2 separate regions of the Homo sapiens genome follow, and region 2 is linked to region 1. The links come from fine-mapping of genetic effects on gene expression. A gene starts in region 1. The other region holds a variant in brackets. All regions are shown on one strand. Distances are from middle to middle.

Region 1 (8,332 bases):
GCCGCAGGCTTGCAGGGAAATGGTGCCATGCTGGCACCTGGAACTGCCCGCCCCACTGCAGCACCCGGAATGTCTGACTGTGCACAGTGGCTGGACCCAATGCTCACTCACATACCCCTAACTGTTCCACGCCTGTCTCACCCTTGGCAGGCATGGGACCCAGGCTGGTAGCGTGAGCCAAGCACAGGCTGCCAGGCTGGGTAGGCGAAACAAGCCCAGAGGGCCTGAGCAAAACTGGGGCAAAAGCACCACCAGCCACAGAGGTTTCTGGCCAGAAAAAGGACGCCCCAAAGATCCCGTAACAATAGGACAAGCACCAAAAATGATAACTGGGCGCAGTGGCTCACGCCTGTAATCCCAGCACTTTGGGAGGCCAAGGCAGGAGGATCACCTGAGGTCAGGAGTTTGAGACCAGCCTGGCCAACATGGTGAAACTCTGTCTCTACTAAAAATACAAAAATCAGCCGGGCGTGGTGACAGGTGTCTGTAATCCCAGCTACTCAGGAGGCTGAGACAGGGGAATCGCTTGAACCTGGGAAGCGGAGTTTGCAGTGAGCCGAGATCACACCACTGCACTCTAGCCTGGGTGACAGAGCAAGACTCCATCTCAATCAATCAATCAATCAATAACTGGGCTGGGTGCAGTGGCTCATGTCTGTAATCCCAGCACTTTGGGAGGCCAAGGCAGGAGGATCACTTGAGGCCAGGAGTTTGAGACCAGCCTGGGCAAAACATGGTGAGACCCTGTCTCTACAAAAAAATTAAAAATTAGCCAGGTGTGATGGCACGTGCTTGTAGTCCCAGTTACTTGGGAGGCTGAGATGAGAGAATCACTTGAGCCCGGGAGGTCAAGGTTGCAGTGAGCTTTGTGCCACTGCACTCCAGCCTGAAAAAGAGTGAGACCCGTCTCAAAAAGAAAAAAAAGATAACTAGCAATAATTGAGTATATCACATATGTGTTAAATTATGAGTTCATAATGGTACTTTAAAAAAAACCTCATCGGTCAACTTTGGAAGATGCTGGGGAACCAACTCATTACTTTGAAAGCTGGTAAAATAAGTGAGAAACAATCAAGTATTTATTCTGCCTTTCCTAGGAAATGTATCTCTGTGTAACAAATAGTTAATGTGGAAAAGTTTCTCCTTATAGAATTATTCTACCTAATACTTCTATAGGAATTCATTCAAAGAAGGAATGATAATATTATTTTCTAACTTTTTATTTATTTTGAGACAGGGTCTTGCTATGATGCCCAGGCTGGACTCGAACTCCTGGGCTCAAGCAACCCTCTCGGCTCAACTTCCCATGTAGTTGGGACTATAGTCGCGTGCCACCATGCCCAGCTTTAACTCCTCTATTAATGAACCTAGACCAGTGGTTCTTATTCAGGGTCAATTTTGTCCCCCAGAGGACAAATGGCAATGTCTAGACACATTTTTTTATTGTTACAGTCAGGAGGAGGTGCTACTGGCATCCATTAGGTAGAGGCCAGAGATGCTGCTAAGCATCCTACAATACACAGGACAGCCCCTACAATAAAGAATTTTCCAGCCCAAAATGTCAATAGTGCCACGGTTGAGAAACAAATATCAGTTATTAAAATCACAAAAAGACCACCACTGTATACCTCCTGTATACCTCCTGATAGAAGTGCTAAAACCATCTACAAATTAGTTTTGCCAAAAGAAATCTAAATTTGATTAAGTTACCAATTTATATCAAATACAGAGGATGGAGGAACATGCTAAATTACCACAGAAATCAAGACTCTAAGAAACTCTACAGGACAAATGAACCAGTTTTAAAAAATAGTAAGAAAAAAGATGGAGAATAAGCATAGATCTGCAAAGACTTAAGAAACATATGGCTGGGTGTGGTGGCTCACACCTATAATCCCAGCACTTTGGGAGGCCAAGGCGAATGGAATGCTTGAGCCCAGGAGTTGAGACCAGCCTGGGCAACGTGGCAAACCCCATCTCTACAAAAATACAAAAATTAGACAGGTGTGGTGGTACCCACACCTCAGTAGTCCCAGCCACTCAGAAGGCTGAGGCAGGATTGCTTGAGCCTCGGGGGTGGAGGTTGCTGTGAGCCGAGATCAACCCACTGCACTCCATCCTGGGTGATAGAGCCAGACCCTGTCTCACAAAAAGAGAGACAGACAGACAGACATATCACCTGCAAAGTACAGACCTAATTTAGATTTTGATTCAAATAAACAATTTTTAAAAATCAAACGTAAGACAGTGAGGGAAATGTAAACAACTGGATGCTTGATGACATGAAGGAACTATTGTTTTTTTTTGGTGTGACAATACTGTGATTTGGTTTTAAAGAAGAATCCTTATCATTTAGAGATAACGTACTGAAACATTTACAGGATGAAATGATATGTCAGAAATATACACAAATATGGAGTGGGGAAGAGGGCACGGGTATAGATGAAACAAGATTGGCCATGAATTGCTCATTGGAGAATCACTGACATAGAAGGGTAAATGAAAGTAGGTACTTTCACCTGGGCCAGGTCAAATATGGCAACAGTACAACTGAGGCAAAGGAAAGCCAATTTTGCACTATGGGTTTCCAACAAAATGGTCTTACTAATCCAAGGTAAATAAACATTCATTTTTCTATTCTGTGTGTGTGTGTTAAGACATTTTCCACCATACAAACAACAACAAAAGGTTTTTTTGAGACAGAGTCCCGCTCTTGTCGCCTAGACAGGAGTGTAATGGCGCGATCTTGGCTCACTGCAACCTCCGCCTCCCGGGTTCAAGCGATTCACCTGCCTCAGATTCCAGAGTAGCTGGAATTACAGGCGCTCGCCACATCAGGCTAATTTTTTTGTATTTTTAGTAGAGACGGGGTTTCACTACGTTGGCCAGGCTGGTCTCATCCTTTCCTGATTGAACCACAGTCACAGCCTCCTTCCTAATCAGTCTCCCGGCCTCCATACAACCACCGCAATCATCTTACAAAAAATAGGCACCTGGCTCTTTGGCTTGGCATTACCATCACCAACTACTACAGTAATTCTCAAACGTGATAAAGGGCCAGAACCCAGTGTCGGTTAAAAGATCTATGATATTAAACAAAATGAGGCATAAATTCCTAGTGTTTACAGATGTCATACAATAAAAAGCAAATTCACAAATTAGTTGTAGATGTTAACATTAATGTGATGAATGAGCGTGTGCTGAAGACCAAACGCCTCCAGAAAAAAGAACAGGATGCACGTGCCCCGTGCAATTCTGTGAGGTTGGCCTGCCTCCACCGGCTGTGGAAGGATTGCGAATGTCTCCCATTCCTCTCGCTCCAAACTTGTGCAATACCTTCCCTTGTACAGCGCACCAAGACAGCATCTGGCCTTCTCTTGACTCTAAGGCATCATGTATCATTTATGACCGTCTTTATTCTTTTCTCAGTAGCCCTCGACAAGCGAGTAGTATTTCTTGGCTCCAAGTCTCATAAACGTGTAACCAGACTCCATTGGAAGACGGTAACCCCACGCGATACGGACTGTGCTTGTATTAATTCTCTTTTAAGCTTACTACAGAAATATCAATACAGTACTTGAGAATTCCTGCAGGACTCAGCCTCGCTTCCTCGAGGAGCTCTCAGCCTGCCTCCGCACTCGAGACGGCAGCTTTCTCTCCCTCCGCCCACCGTTCCGCCGCTAGGTGGCAGGCGGCTCAACGACGCCCTTTTAAACCGTTTGCCCCGGAGTGGACCGCCGGGATCGCGTGTCACCACCCAACCCTAGCGATGATTGGCTATTTCGCCGAGGCCGGAGGAGGAACCAGCGGCAGAACCGGAAGCGTCTGGTACGGCGAGTGCACGGAGTCCTGAGACTGCGTGCGCACCCAGGCACCGCGCCGACTTAAAGAGGCCAGTTGCAGCCCCTCCTCCGGCCTTAGGGGGCAGACCGTGTTCCTACGTGGAGGGCGGAACCCTCACACTGAGGAGGGCTGGGTCACACTGAGGGGAGGAGTCACCTTGAGAGGAGGGGTCACAATGACTAGTGGATTTCCTCGGAGGTGGGGTCTCACTGCGTGGGAGGAACACAGAGCAAGGGGGTGCAGCACTGAGGGGTTCTGACACACTGACGGTGGCAGTGCCACACTGGGGAAAAGTGCCCCCGAAAGGGAGGTGTCTCACTGAGGAAGGGAGGGGTCTCCGAGGGACAGCGTTCTTTGAGGGGGGTGGGATCTTGCGGAAGGACGGGCTTCCCTGCAGGTGGAGGCTTCTCTCTTAGAGTCTTTTGGGCAAAGTAGTAAGAGGGAGGTCCCGGCTGGGTGGTCACAGGGCGGAGGACCTGGACTCTCTTCTTTATTGGGAGGCGGCAGGATGAAGTGAGGAGGAGTCGGGGCTAAGCTGGGTATGGGCCGGCCAAAGGCTTCCTATAGCCCCGGGGTATCACAACCTCCCGTGAAGGTAGAAGGTGTTAGGGAGGCCAGAGGTTCAAGGTGTCGGAGTCGAAGAGACCTGGGAAATGGGCAGGCTGGGCCGGGGCGCAGGCCAGGAAGGTGGACAGGTTGCTAGGCTACCTCTGATTGCGGCTGGGCCTGAGGGGCCTACCTTTCTGCCCCGTTGGTCCCTGGAGCCCAGGAATCCGGCAGGTTTCTGAGCCCGACCCTCAACGGACAGTAACCCAGGGAGGAGAGGGGACTCCCTGGGCAGCTAAGCTTCGCATGCGCACCATCAGCCCTTAATTCCCTCCCGTTATTCAAGCTCAGGCCGGAGCTTATTTGACCCGGGCGGCCCAGGGCATCGCGGCCGGAAAGCGGGGAGGCGGGGGTGCGCACCTGAGGGGGCGTGGCCGCTGCCGGGAGGCCGGGCTGGAAGGAGTTAAGCGGAGGCCCGGCCCAGCCCCGCCCCCGGCAGGCCGCGGAGCCTGATCCCCGGCGGCTAAGCGGAGCAGCCGCCGCCCGCCCGCCCGCCCGCCTCCGCCCGCGGCAAGCCAGCCCGCCGGCGCCCCGGAGCGCTGCCGCCACCGTCACCGCCACCGCCCGGTCCAGGCCCAAGCCCAGGCCCTGCGCGGAGCGGAGCGGCGCGGCGTCCACCCGGGCCCAGCCAGCCGGCGCGGCGGGGGCGGGTCCAGGATCTTCGGCGGATCTTCCATTCTCAGGGCGGGAGCCGGAGTCCGGGCGCCCGGGATCGGGCTGGGCCCGCGCCCATGGCAAGCGCGGCCTGCCCGGGCCCTGGGGACCCTGCCATGTGAGGCAGGCCCGGGCTGGGGGCCCGGCCATGGCCGGGGAACGGCCCCCACTGCGGGGCCCTGGGCCCGGGCCTGGAGAGGTGCCGGGGGAGGGGCCCCCGGGGCCGGGGGGCACGGGCGGAGGCCCGGGCCGGGGCCGCCCCTCCTCCTACCGGGCTCTCCGCAGCGCCGTGTCTAGCCTGGCGCGTGTGGACGATTTTCACTGCGCGGAGAAGATCGGGGCCGGCTTCTTCTCTGAGGTCTACAAGGTAGGACCGGCCGAGAGGGCAGAGGGGCGGGACCGAGCCTTCAACCAGAGGCTGAAACTAGGGGGCCGGGAGTGCGGGGAAGAGGGTCCAGACTCCGGCGACCCGCCCGACCTGCCCGGCCCTCGCCGGCTGCTCCTGCCCCCAGGTTCGGCACCGACAGTCAGGGCAAGTCATGGTGCTGAAGATGAACAAGCTCCCCAGTAACCGGGGCAACACACTACGGGAAGTGCAGCTGATGAACCGGCTCAGGCACCCCAACATCCTAAGGTGAGCGGCCCCAGTCTCTGGGCAGCTTGCTGGGCGGGAGAGAAAGGGAAAGATCCCGCGGGAAAAGTGGAACTGAGGAGGAGCTGAGGCCTTTAATAGCCTATCCTTCTATCTTCCCCATCCTCTTGCAGGTTCATGGGAGTCTGTGTGCACCAGGGACAGCTGCACGCTCTTACAGAGGTGAGGATAGGCCAGGAAGGAGGGATCCCCACCCCCCTTCACCCCCAAGGATAAAGGGAGTCAACAGGCCTGGTGGATCTACGGAGGACTAGTGAGAGGCAACAGGATCTCCTCTCAGGGGAGGCTTTCCTGAACTTTCCTTTAGGCAAACCACATATAAAAGGCCTCAACTGGTCTTATTCTCTGTATCCCCTAGAACAGTGCTGTCCAATAGAATTTTCTTCAGTGACGGAAATGTTCTCTATCTGTGCTGTCCAATACAGTAGCCACTAGCCACATGTGGTTAAATTTAAATTATTTTCATTGTTTAGATTATTTTTTGTGGGTCAACTTGATTAAAAAATTTTTTAAATTATTTAAATTGTTGCACATGGCTAATGGCTATTGAGTTGAACGGGGCAATCCTAGAACATGGATGGGGGGGGTCCTACAGCACAGTCTTACCCCTATGACCTCTGTGATCCTCGGGAGTGTCCCCTAGCGTGTAAGTGGGGGACCTAGAATACAGACTGAAGTCTGACATCTATTCCCATTCTCCTCCTATGCACCAGTATATGAATGGGGGGACATTGGAACAGCTGCTCAGCTCCCCTGAACCCCTGTCCTGGCCGGTCAGGCTCCACCTGGCCCTGGACATTGCCCGAGGCCTGCGGTACCTGCACTCCAAAGGTGTATTTCACCGCGACCTCACATCCAAGGTAGGCTAGCAGGGTGGGTGGAGACATGAAAGAGGGTTTGAGGCTATTAGGTTGTAACTGGCCTGTGGATGTTGGAATATGGATAACAGATATATTAGGATGTTGGAGTGGCAAGGCATTGGAGAATATTGGGGGACCAGGGTGAGGGGAGTGCTCGGAGGGACTGAGTAGCACCCTGTGTTTGGAGTGTTGGATGATGTTGCAATATTGAAGTGCCTTGAAAAACTGGGAGAGCAGAGAGGGTTGGAGTTATGCTGGAGTGACAGGGCTTTGGGTTATACATTGGGAGGCCAGACAGCAGAAGGTGATGAGTGCGTGGGGATACTATGTGTGTGTGTGTCAGAACTGTCTAGTCCGACGGGAAGATCGAGGCTTCACCGCTGTCGTGGGTGACTTCGGGCTGGCCGAAAAGATTCCTGTGTATAGGTGAGATGAATGTCCCTGTTCCCCCCAAATCTCCCAGAGTGCCCCTATCTGATGTCCCCAGAGCCCCAGGGATGTTTCCCTTGGGGAACGGAGGGAGTTCACCTCATCCCCTTTTGCCTGGGGGGGATGCCTGAATAGGATGCTTCTGACCACTCTGCCCCTGCCCCTGCAGGGAGGGGGCAAGGAAGGAGCCATTGGCCGTGGTGGGCTCCCCATACTGGATGGCTCCAGAGGTGTTACGGGGTGAGCTGTATGATGAGAAGGTGAGACATCAACCCTTCAGATCCCCAAGGCCTTCCGAGACCCTTGAGGTATTCTCATAAAGCCCCATCCATCCCCAAAACAACCCTACCAGATCTTCAGGAGTCCCCAAGATCCCTTTGCCCCTCACAGGCACCCTTCTAACACATGAAAACTGTCAAGATCCCCCACCCTCAACCAAATTCTGCTATATTCTGTCAAAATTCTGAAATGAAAACTGTTAATTCTTCCCCGACACTATTATCTCTGACCCCCAGGCTGATGTCTTTGCCTTCGGGATTGTCCTCTGTGAGCTCATCGCCCGAGTACCTGCAGACCCTGACTACCTACCACGCACTGAGGTGAATGTTTCTAGGTTTGCAAAGAAAGAATTCCAGACTAGCTGGCTCATAACCAAGGAGGATTCCCTAGAGGTTGAGGTTCTGACTGGGGAGCAGAAGGAGAACCCAAGAAAAGCTGACTTGGAGGTCCCTCCTTCTGTCCCCACAGGACTTTGGCCTGGATGTGCCTGCTTTCCGAACTCTGGTGGGGGATGACTGCCCACTGCCTTTCTTGCTCCTGGCCATCCACTGCTGCAACGTAAGAGCCTCACACTCCTTCCTGCCCCACCCTGCCCCCATCCGTAAGCTGCCATGGCTGCCCTGTGGGACCCAGGTGATGGGAGGAAACTCAGAGACCCTCTTTCGGAGCACTGAGTGAAGCCGTTCCTGTCTCTACCCATCAGCTGGAACCCAGCACCCGTGCCCCCTTCACCGAAATTACCCAGCACCTGGAATGGATCCTGGAGCAGCTGCCTGAGCCAGCCCCACTCACCAGGACCGCCCTGACACACAATCAGGGTAAGGGAGCCTGACCTTGATCCAGCTTGAGTCCTTTGGCCTTTGTCCTCCCTAGAATTCAGAGGTGACATGGGGGAGGCTAAGTATATTTATTAGTTGAAAAGGCTGGGGGTCGGGCTGGGGTAGGGTGGGAGGACATCTCCAAGAAGACAGTTTCCTAATGCTAAAGCTTGAGGGAGAGGAGGGGAAAG
Region 2 (8,332 bases), 37 kb before region 1:
AGGCCAGGAGGGCCTCGAAGTAGCTGACCAGTCACCTGCCCATAGGTCTGGCCCACGCTGAACCGAAGTAGTGGGCAGTGTCCAGTGTACCTGCAGCACAGACTCTCCCACTCACCAGAATCGCCCTGCCCCGCCATCCCCAGAGGCAGAAGCGGAGACCTCTGAAGCCCTGATCTTTCTGGACTCAGCAGTGTATATATTTGGAGCAGGCATTTCTAAGTTCTCTGCCTGGGCTTTCGATCCTTCCTCTGCTGTTACCCTGTTCCCATGGAGAGAACAACACAAAGCTTTGGGGCAGACCCGGTGTCTCACTAGTCCCTTGCTTCTCCTTTTCCATCCACCACCATAGAGACCTCAGCCTCCCAAACCAACCTGTCCGCTTGGCCCCATGCTCTAAGCAGCTTAATTCCTCCACCCTATACCCCTACTCCCAGCAGCAAGCGGGGAGCGCTAAGTGGGAGTCTTACCCTGGGATATAATGAGGGTTCTGAGGGTTGAGCCCTGGTATGAAGGTGCTGGCCACAGCCATGGGGAGCCGGGCATTTCCTTTTGTTTGCCTTTGAGCCAAGGCTCTGGTCTGTGTGTACCGTGTCCAGGGCTGTGGGGCTAGAGGAAGGAGGCGGGGCTAAGGGAGGAGAGAAGGGAGGGGGCACTCGTGTGAGGACAGCCAGGGCGAAGGCCGGCAGAACTGTAGAGCAGAGGCTAGCAGGTCTGTCTGTCCAGGACAAAGGTGGTCCTGCTCGTGGGGCAGGGCCCGAACCGAAGGAAGCCCTGAGGTGGGACGTGGGAGGTGGGACGTGGGAGGTGAGGGAGCAGAAACCATTCGGGCCACTGAGCTCTGTCTCAGCGACTTCCTTCCTGAGCGCCTGCCTGAGAGGTGGACACTGTGTTCCTCATGAGTCTTCATCAAAGGAGATGGGGGACCTGGAGAAAGGATCTTTGAGGGAAGCCAGGGCCCAGAGGGGAGGTGAAAGAGGACAGGTGATGGGGGAAAAAAAGGAACCTAGACACCTCTAGGGAGTAACATCGTTTATTTTCAATAATTTAACAAGAGTGGCTTACTGAATACCTGCTATAATCAGAGTCATCCATTCAACAAATGAGCCAGGCTCTGCCAGGCTCCGGCCACAGTGGCCGAGTGTGCACTCCATGGGAGCCAGAAAAGCTGTGGGGGTTGAGGGAAGGAAACAGGATAAAGTTGTTGTAGGTGTGGGCGGTAACACTAGGGAGCAAGTTAGAATTTGTTAAAAAAATAAAATAAAATAAAAAATTCGGATTCTAAGAGAAGAAAAAGCACAGACCAGGAAGATGAGATCTCAGAGGACGGGGAAACATGTTTAAAACCCAACTCTGGGCCGGGTGCAGCCACGCTCACATCAACGTACTGAGGAGGCTGAGGTGGGAGGATCACTTGGGTCCGGGAGTTTCAGTCCAAACTGGGCAACACAGCCAGACCCCACCTCAAAAAACAAAACAAAACAAAAAGTTCTGGGGCTGGGTCAGGGCCAGGCTGAGGGCTCAGGGCCCACGTTTCTGAGGCAGAGCTCTGCTCTTCTCCCCACCTCCAGTGACCATGCCTGCGCTGACCAAGGACGGCACTGACATCCCAGGGGAATTACATAAGAGCACTGGGCTCCAAGGCACACATTTCATGTTCCTCACTGTTCTGCCAAGGACAGCCTTAGAATGTGTCATTTAGAGTTGTGGGGACTTACCTCACAGCTGAGGAAATATGTTAGAGTGAGGATGGGAGCCGAGGGGCAAGCCCAGAATAGCAGCAGTGTGTCAAGCTTAACAACCAGACTTGGGATTCTGTGACAGACACTATCACAGCTTATACCTATTCCTGACCCCCATCTCCTTTCTTCCGAGGAGCCAGAAACTGCATCAGGGAGGCTTGGAGAGCCAGCCTGGAGGAATGAGCTGGATTAGTCTAAGCGTGGTCCCATGCTCCTTCCCCATGACCGCTTAGGCACGGGCTTCCAGCATTCTGGATAATATGAGGGGAAATCTGCTGGGGCAGGGGAGGGTCCTGGGAAAAGTTTCTTTGCTCTTAAAGAAAAGATTCACATCAAATTAGAGCAAGTGAGAGAGACAGAGATGCGCAAGACGAAACGATGTCCATTCCTGCCCCTAGACTTTTGGGGGATGTGAGGCTGGAATGCTGGCAGGCATGTGGAAGCCTTGTGGAAAGCTAACCTGAAGACAAGTCCTGGACACATCAAGGATGGATGGTAGAGGAGAAAGGCCAGGGTCCTGAGGGTAATGTAGAGCCATGGAATTAATCAGCCTTTTTATGTCAAATAGTAAATTTCATTATTAAGGCCACTTTAAGTTTTCTTTCACTTACAGCCAAAGGCATCATAACTTTAAAAAACAAAACAGCCAGGCACGGTGGCTCACACCCTTAATCCCAGCACTTTGGGAGGCCGAGGCAGGAGGATCACAAGGTCATGAGTTCGAGACCAGCCTGGCCAACATAGTGAAATCCTGTCTCTACTAAAAATACAAAAATTAGCCAAGCGTGGTGGTGGGCACCTGTAGTCCCAGCTACTCAGGAGGTTGAGGCAGGAGAATCACATGAACCCAGGAGGTGGAGCTTGCAGTGAGCTGAGATCGCACATTGCACTCCAGCTTGGGCAACAGAGTGAGACTCCGTCTCAAAAACAAAACAAAACAAAAAAACACCACTAGATCAAATCCTAGCTTCACCAGAGATATAGACTTTGTCCAAATTCATCTCATTGAGCCTCAGTTTTCTCATCTGTAAAATGGAAAAACTAATGTTACCATCTCATAGAGTAGGATATCAGCTAGCTGAGATGATACACAATGAGCAATGACCCCAGCGTCTAGCTTACGGTAAGTGCTAACTAAACAGCAATTCACGGCTAGCATTTGGCAGGAATGGGAGGAAGGAAAGGAGCTGGGAGCAGTCACAGATGTTAGAGGTTCAGGGGAAAGGTTCATGAAATTGAAAAAGGGAAAGGTTTGAATGGAAGTTGGGGTATAAATTAGGATGTAGGGACTAGAACACATTCTGCAGAAAAGACCATGGCAGTTAGAATCCGGGTATGCGTTAAAACACAAGTTAGGAAACAGATTAGGATTAGTCTTAGGTTTATGGCTTATGAAGAAACAGCTCTATCCAATTGGTAGAATGGCCTGTTACTATGATTGTTTCCATCTGAATAAAGAATATTTCTAGATCCCTGAAGGGTGTTCTAATCTGAGAAAGGAGTGACGGGGCCAGCTGAGGCACCACAGGAATGCTTGCTGCCTCTGTGCCTCCTTCCAGGGACAGACATCACAGAAACATGACCACAACTTGCTCTGATGGGAGCTGCCACACCCAGTGGCCAGTGTTGGATGTGGCAGTGGAGAGAAAATGTTTAACTGGAGACAGCGCCCCACTCAGTCCACACAGCCTGCTGGGTCCCCACAATGGCAGCCTATAGCCTTCTGTTCTGCCTTTGATTCTGACCAGGAACTGCTATAAAATTTCATACAGATCCCAAATCAATCATTTGATTGTATGTCAACCCTAGGCAAGCATAAATCCCCTCTGCAAGGATGAATAAAAGAAAATCACAGGACCTTTGAAAAAATTCCTGAAATCAACAGTCCACCAAAATTGAAACAAGAATTGAATAAACTCCAAAAGATTACATGCAACACAAAACCTTTTTTAGTTTGAAAAATACATGCAGATGCATAAAACTGCATAAAAAGGAAAGCAAGGGAATGATAAAAATGGGTTTCAAATGCTCACCTCAGATGGTGAGAAACAAAAGGGGTGGGAAAGGGGGAACCACATAGTTAGATGTATGTTATTGTCAAAGTTTCAGTTTTTGTTTGGGATGATGTTTTCAAAAATGCTTATAATGGGCCAGGTGCAGTGTCTCATGCCTGTAATCCCAACACCTGGGGAGGCCAAGGTGGGCAGATTACTTGAGGTCAGGAATTCGAGACCAGCCTGGCCAATATGGCAAAACCCCATCTCTACTAAACATACAAAAATTAGCCAGGTGTGGTGGCACACACCTGTAATCCCAGCTACTTGGGAGGCTGAGGCAGAAGAATCACTTGAACCAGGAGGCAGAGGTTGCAGTGAGCCGAGATCATGCCACTGCACTCCAGCCTGGGTGACAGAGCATGACTCTGTATCAAAAAAAAAAAAATGCTTATAATGCATACATTATAACAAAGTATGAACTAATGATGAGAATGTGCCAAACCAAAGATTATGACAATTGAAATCTATGCTTTTGAGGTCCAAAGAGGTGTGGTGGAGGGAATCCAAGTAGAAATGACAAGGAATCATGGTATTTGGAGGGATCGAAGGAAAGGAAATGGCCTGGTCTCTATTCTACCTTTTTCTACCTTTTTGGTTTTTTTCTTTTTTTGAGATAGGGTCTCACTCTGTCACCTAAGCTGGAGTGCAGTGGCATAATCTCAGCTCACTACAACCTTCGCTTCCTGGGCTCAAGTGATCCTCCCACCTCAGCCTCCAGAGTAGCTGGGACTACAGGTGCATGCCACCACACCCGGCTAATTTTTGTATTTTTTTTTTTTTATAGAGATAGGGTTTCACCATGTCCAAGCTGGTCTTGAACTCCTGGGTTAAAGCGATCCACCCTCCTCAGCCTCCCAAAGTGCTGGAATTACAGGCGTGAGCCACCGCACCTGGCCTGGATTTTTTATGTATATAACACTCCTCAAATCCACAAGGATCAATATTCATTTATTCAGCCTACTTATTAAATATTTCTACTAGGCAGTTGCCTTATAGATCAATACAGACAATGCCTGACCTCA[G/A]TGATCGAACCACTTTAAAGAAGAGACAGAGGTACAGAGAAAGGCAGAATAAAATAAATACCACAATGAAGATCTAAACAAAAACAACTGATCTTATAATAGGCCATGAAGAAAAATCTCAAAAATTCCAAGAAGCACAATAAACCACATTTCCTCACACAAACACAATTTTAAAATTTTAAAATAGGCTAAACAAACAACCAACCTAACACTTAGACATTTAAAAATACTCCCTTGAGCTGGGCGTGGTGGTGCATTCCTGTAATCCCAGCTGCTTGGGAAGCTGAGGCGGGAGGATGGCTTGAGCCCAGAAATTTGAAGCTGTAGGGCGGCGCTATGATCACATCTGTGAATAGCCACTGCACTCCAGCCCAGGCAACACAGTGAGACCCTGTCTCTTAAAGAAATAAAAATTAAAATTAAAAAAAAAACAAAAACACCTTAACCCTTGGGGCAAAGAAAAAATTCCAGTTATACACAATTATTTATAAATAAATGAGAATTCAATCAAAGATGAATTCAGAGGCAACTTTTAGCCTCAAACACATACTGGCCTCATGATTAAGAATATAGACTTGATCCTGCTGGGTGTGGTGGCTCACACCTGTAATCCCAGCACTTTGGGAAGCCGAGGCAGGTGGATCACAAGGTCAGATCAAGACCGTCCTGGCTAACACGGTGAAACTCCGTCTCTACTAAAAATATAAAAAATTAGCTGGGCGTGGTGGCAGGCGCCTGTAGTCCCAGTTACTGGGGAGGCTGAGGCAGGAGAATGGCGTGAACCAGGGAGGTGGAGCTTGTAGTGAGCTGAGATCGCACCACTGCACTCCAGCCTGGGCGACAGAGAGAGATTCTGTCTCAAAAAATTAAAAAAAAAAAAAAAAAAAATATATATATATATATAGGCTTGATCCTGGCTCCATCACTTATGAGCTGTACAACCTTGGGCAAGTTAGCAAACCTCTCTGTATCTCTTTTTCCCTCCTCTATAAAATGAAAATGCTAATAGTGTAAGGATTAACTTAAACGGTACAATAAAGCACAATAATAAATAAACTATCAATATCATTACTAACAAATGTTCTAGTGGGAGCTGCTCTAAGAAACAATTGCCTACCTTGGCTGGTCCAAGTAAAAGAAGAAAGCCAAGAGTGGAAGGAAGAGAGGATATCTTAAGAATGGATAGATTTCCTGAGTATCCAAGGAAGGAACTGTATACTGTACAGACTGCCATATAGCTAGGCCTCGTGAAACGGGAATTGAGAACGTGAAAGTGAACAGGAGCTGAGGCAGCTATTTTCACTCTCACCCTGGGGCCAGGTGCTTCTCTCTGCACATCTGCTCAACTCCGTCTGTCTCTATCTGTCTCTCTCGCTCCCTTTTCCAAATGGACTTGTCACTATTAGTTTCTACTCCCTGATAACTCTGGTATGCATGTGTTCATCAGGAAATTTCTACACCCCACATCCCCCATCATCTCTACAACAGTGATTGCTTAAGCAGAGTGTGCTGCAGAATTACCCAGAGTTTCGATATCAAACCTATAGAAAAGTTGCAAGACAAATGTCACTTTTACCTGACTTACCAGTTGTTCACATTTTGCAACTCAGAAGTATAGTCTCCCATGCGTCCCAGAAGGAAAGAGAAACAGACACAGGTGAGCATCACCATCCTGACCTCACTCATCTCTCTCGGCCTGGCCTCACTGCAGATGCAGAGGCCACCACCTCAACCAGGCAGCTGGGGAGGGAGGAGGGCATGTGTGCAGACCATGATGGCTTCAGCAGGACAGGCTGCAGACAGACTAGCCAGGCAAATGAGTCTAAAAGCAACTAGCCAGCTAACTAAATTAACTAGCTAATAACTAAGCAGTCAATTCAAAAGGCTAGAAAAAGAAGAACGTCATAAAGCTAACAAATATAGGAGAATGAAACTGATAGAAACCAATAAATCAGAAAACAGAAAAACAATTGAACTGTTATAAGAGTTGTTTAAAACAACAACAAAACAAGCAAACTGCTGGCAAAGTTAGCCAAGAGAAAGACTATACAACACCCCTAACAGATTGAGGAAGTGGCTAAAAACAGGCACATAGGAATTTGTGGGGGGTTTTTTTGTTTTGTTTTTGTTTTTGAGATGGAGTCTCGCTCTGTCGCCAGGCTGGAGTGCAGTGGCGCAATCTCGGCTCACTGCAACCTCCGCCTCCGGGGTTCAAGCAATTCTCCTGCCTCAGCCTCCCAAGTAGCTAGAATTACAGGTATGCGCCACCACGCCCAGCTAATTTTTGTATTTTTAGTAGAGACAGGGTTTCACTATGTTGGCCAGGATGGTCTTGATCTCTTGACTTCGTGATCCACCTGCTTCGGCCTCCCAAAGTGCTGGGATTACAGGCATGAGCCACCGCGCCCAGCCAGGAATTTGTGTTTTAACTACAAAAGAATACTAGTGAAACTCTATATAAATAAACTAGAAAATGTCAATAAGAATGAATATTGTCTTGGAAAATATAAATCAAAATCAACTCAAAATGATGGAACATCTGAATAAAATAACAATAGAAAGAATTGGGCCAGGTGCAGTGACTCACATCTGTAATCCCAGCATTTTCGGAGGCCAAGGTTCAGGATTGCTTGAGCCCAGGAGTTCTAGACCAGCCTGGGCAACATAGTAAGACTTCATCTCTACAAAAAATTTTTAAAAAATCAGCCAGGCATGGTGGCGTGTAGTCCTAGCTACTCAGGATGCTGAGGTGAGAAAATCACCTCGGCCCAGGAAGCTGAGGCTGCAGTGAGCCATGATTGCATCACTGCACTCCAGCCTGGGTGACGGAAACCCTGTCTCAAAAAGAAAAAGAAAGAATGGAAAAAGTGGTCAAGTAGATGCCCCTACCAAAAGACCCACACGCCACTTGATTTACAAAATTAGCAAAAACTTAATTCAAGACAACAAATTCAATACCTAACAAACCTCACACAAGTTCTACAGATAAAAAATGCCACCAAATAAAACATCAAACTAGCAACAGCAAAAAAGCAGGATGCTTACTATCACTGTCATCTTTCCTCCAATTCATAGCAGATGCCAATAAAGGATCCCAGTCCCCTTTCTGAGATCTTCCAAGACTCTGCAAGACAGCATGTTTTGAGTGATTTCTGCCAAAGCTTCAGATGAGGGGAGTGGTGGCAAATGTTCTGCTCTTTATCACCCCTGAATTGACTGACAGCTCAGTAAGGGCAGAAACCATGTCTGTCTATCTTGTTCATGATTATATCCTCAGCATCAAGCACAAGTGTCTGGCACATAGTATGAACTACACAAGTCTAGTAATATTGTAAAAGAATAATATACATTAAGACTAGTAGAGCCAAGTGTGGTAGCTCATGCCCGTAATCCCAGCATTTTGGGAGGCCAAGGCAGGAGGATCACTTGAGCCCAGGAATTTGAGATCAGCCTGGGCAACACAGTGAGACCTTGTCTCTACTAAAAATAAAAAATTAGCCAGATGTGGTGGTAC

The links. PIP is the estimated chance that this variant, and not a neighbour inherited with it, causes the effect.
Region 2: its variant is fine-mapped to the expression of TESK1 in skeletal muscle (GTEx, PIP 0.94).

What each region holds. Positions count from the first base shown.
Region 1 is chr9:35,600,369-35,608,700 of GRCh38, forward strand. TESK1 (testis associated actin remodelling kinase 1) reads left to right here and starts at 4,894. Exons shown (of 10, transcript NM_006285.3): 1 at 4,894-5,470; 2 at 5,616-5,737; 3 at 5,869-5,917; 4 at 6,469-6,615; 5 at 6,959-7,041; 6 at 7,214-7,304; 7 at 7,560-7,643; 8 at 7,792-7,881; 9 at 8,027-8,141. The coding sequence starts at 5,252. It overlaps MIR4667 (microRNA 4667), which reads left to right and starts at 7,726; the gene lies at 7,726-7,791. RefSeq lists an enhancer at 4,130-4,239 and silencers at 4,720-4,969, 5,000-5,299, 5,320-5,489, 5,424-5,718, 5,500-5,759.
Region 2 is chr9:35,563,300-35,571,631 of GRCh38, forward strand. CIMIP2B (ciliary microtubule inner protein 2B) reads right to left here and starts at 579. Exons shown (of 6, transcript NM_001164310.3): 1 at 468-579; 2 at 1-90. The coding sequence starts at 529. RefSeq lists an enhancer at 6,174-6,333. The variant G/A (reference allele first, on the strand shown) is at 4,819.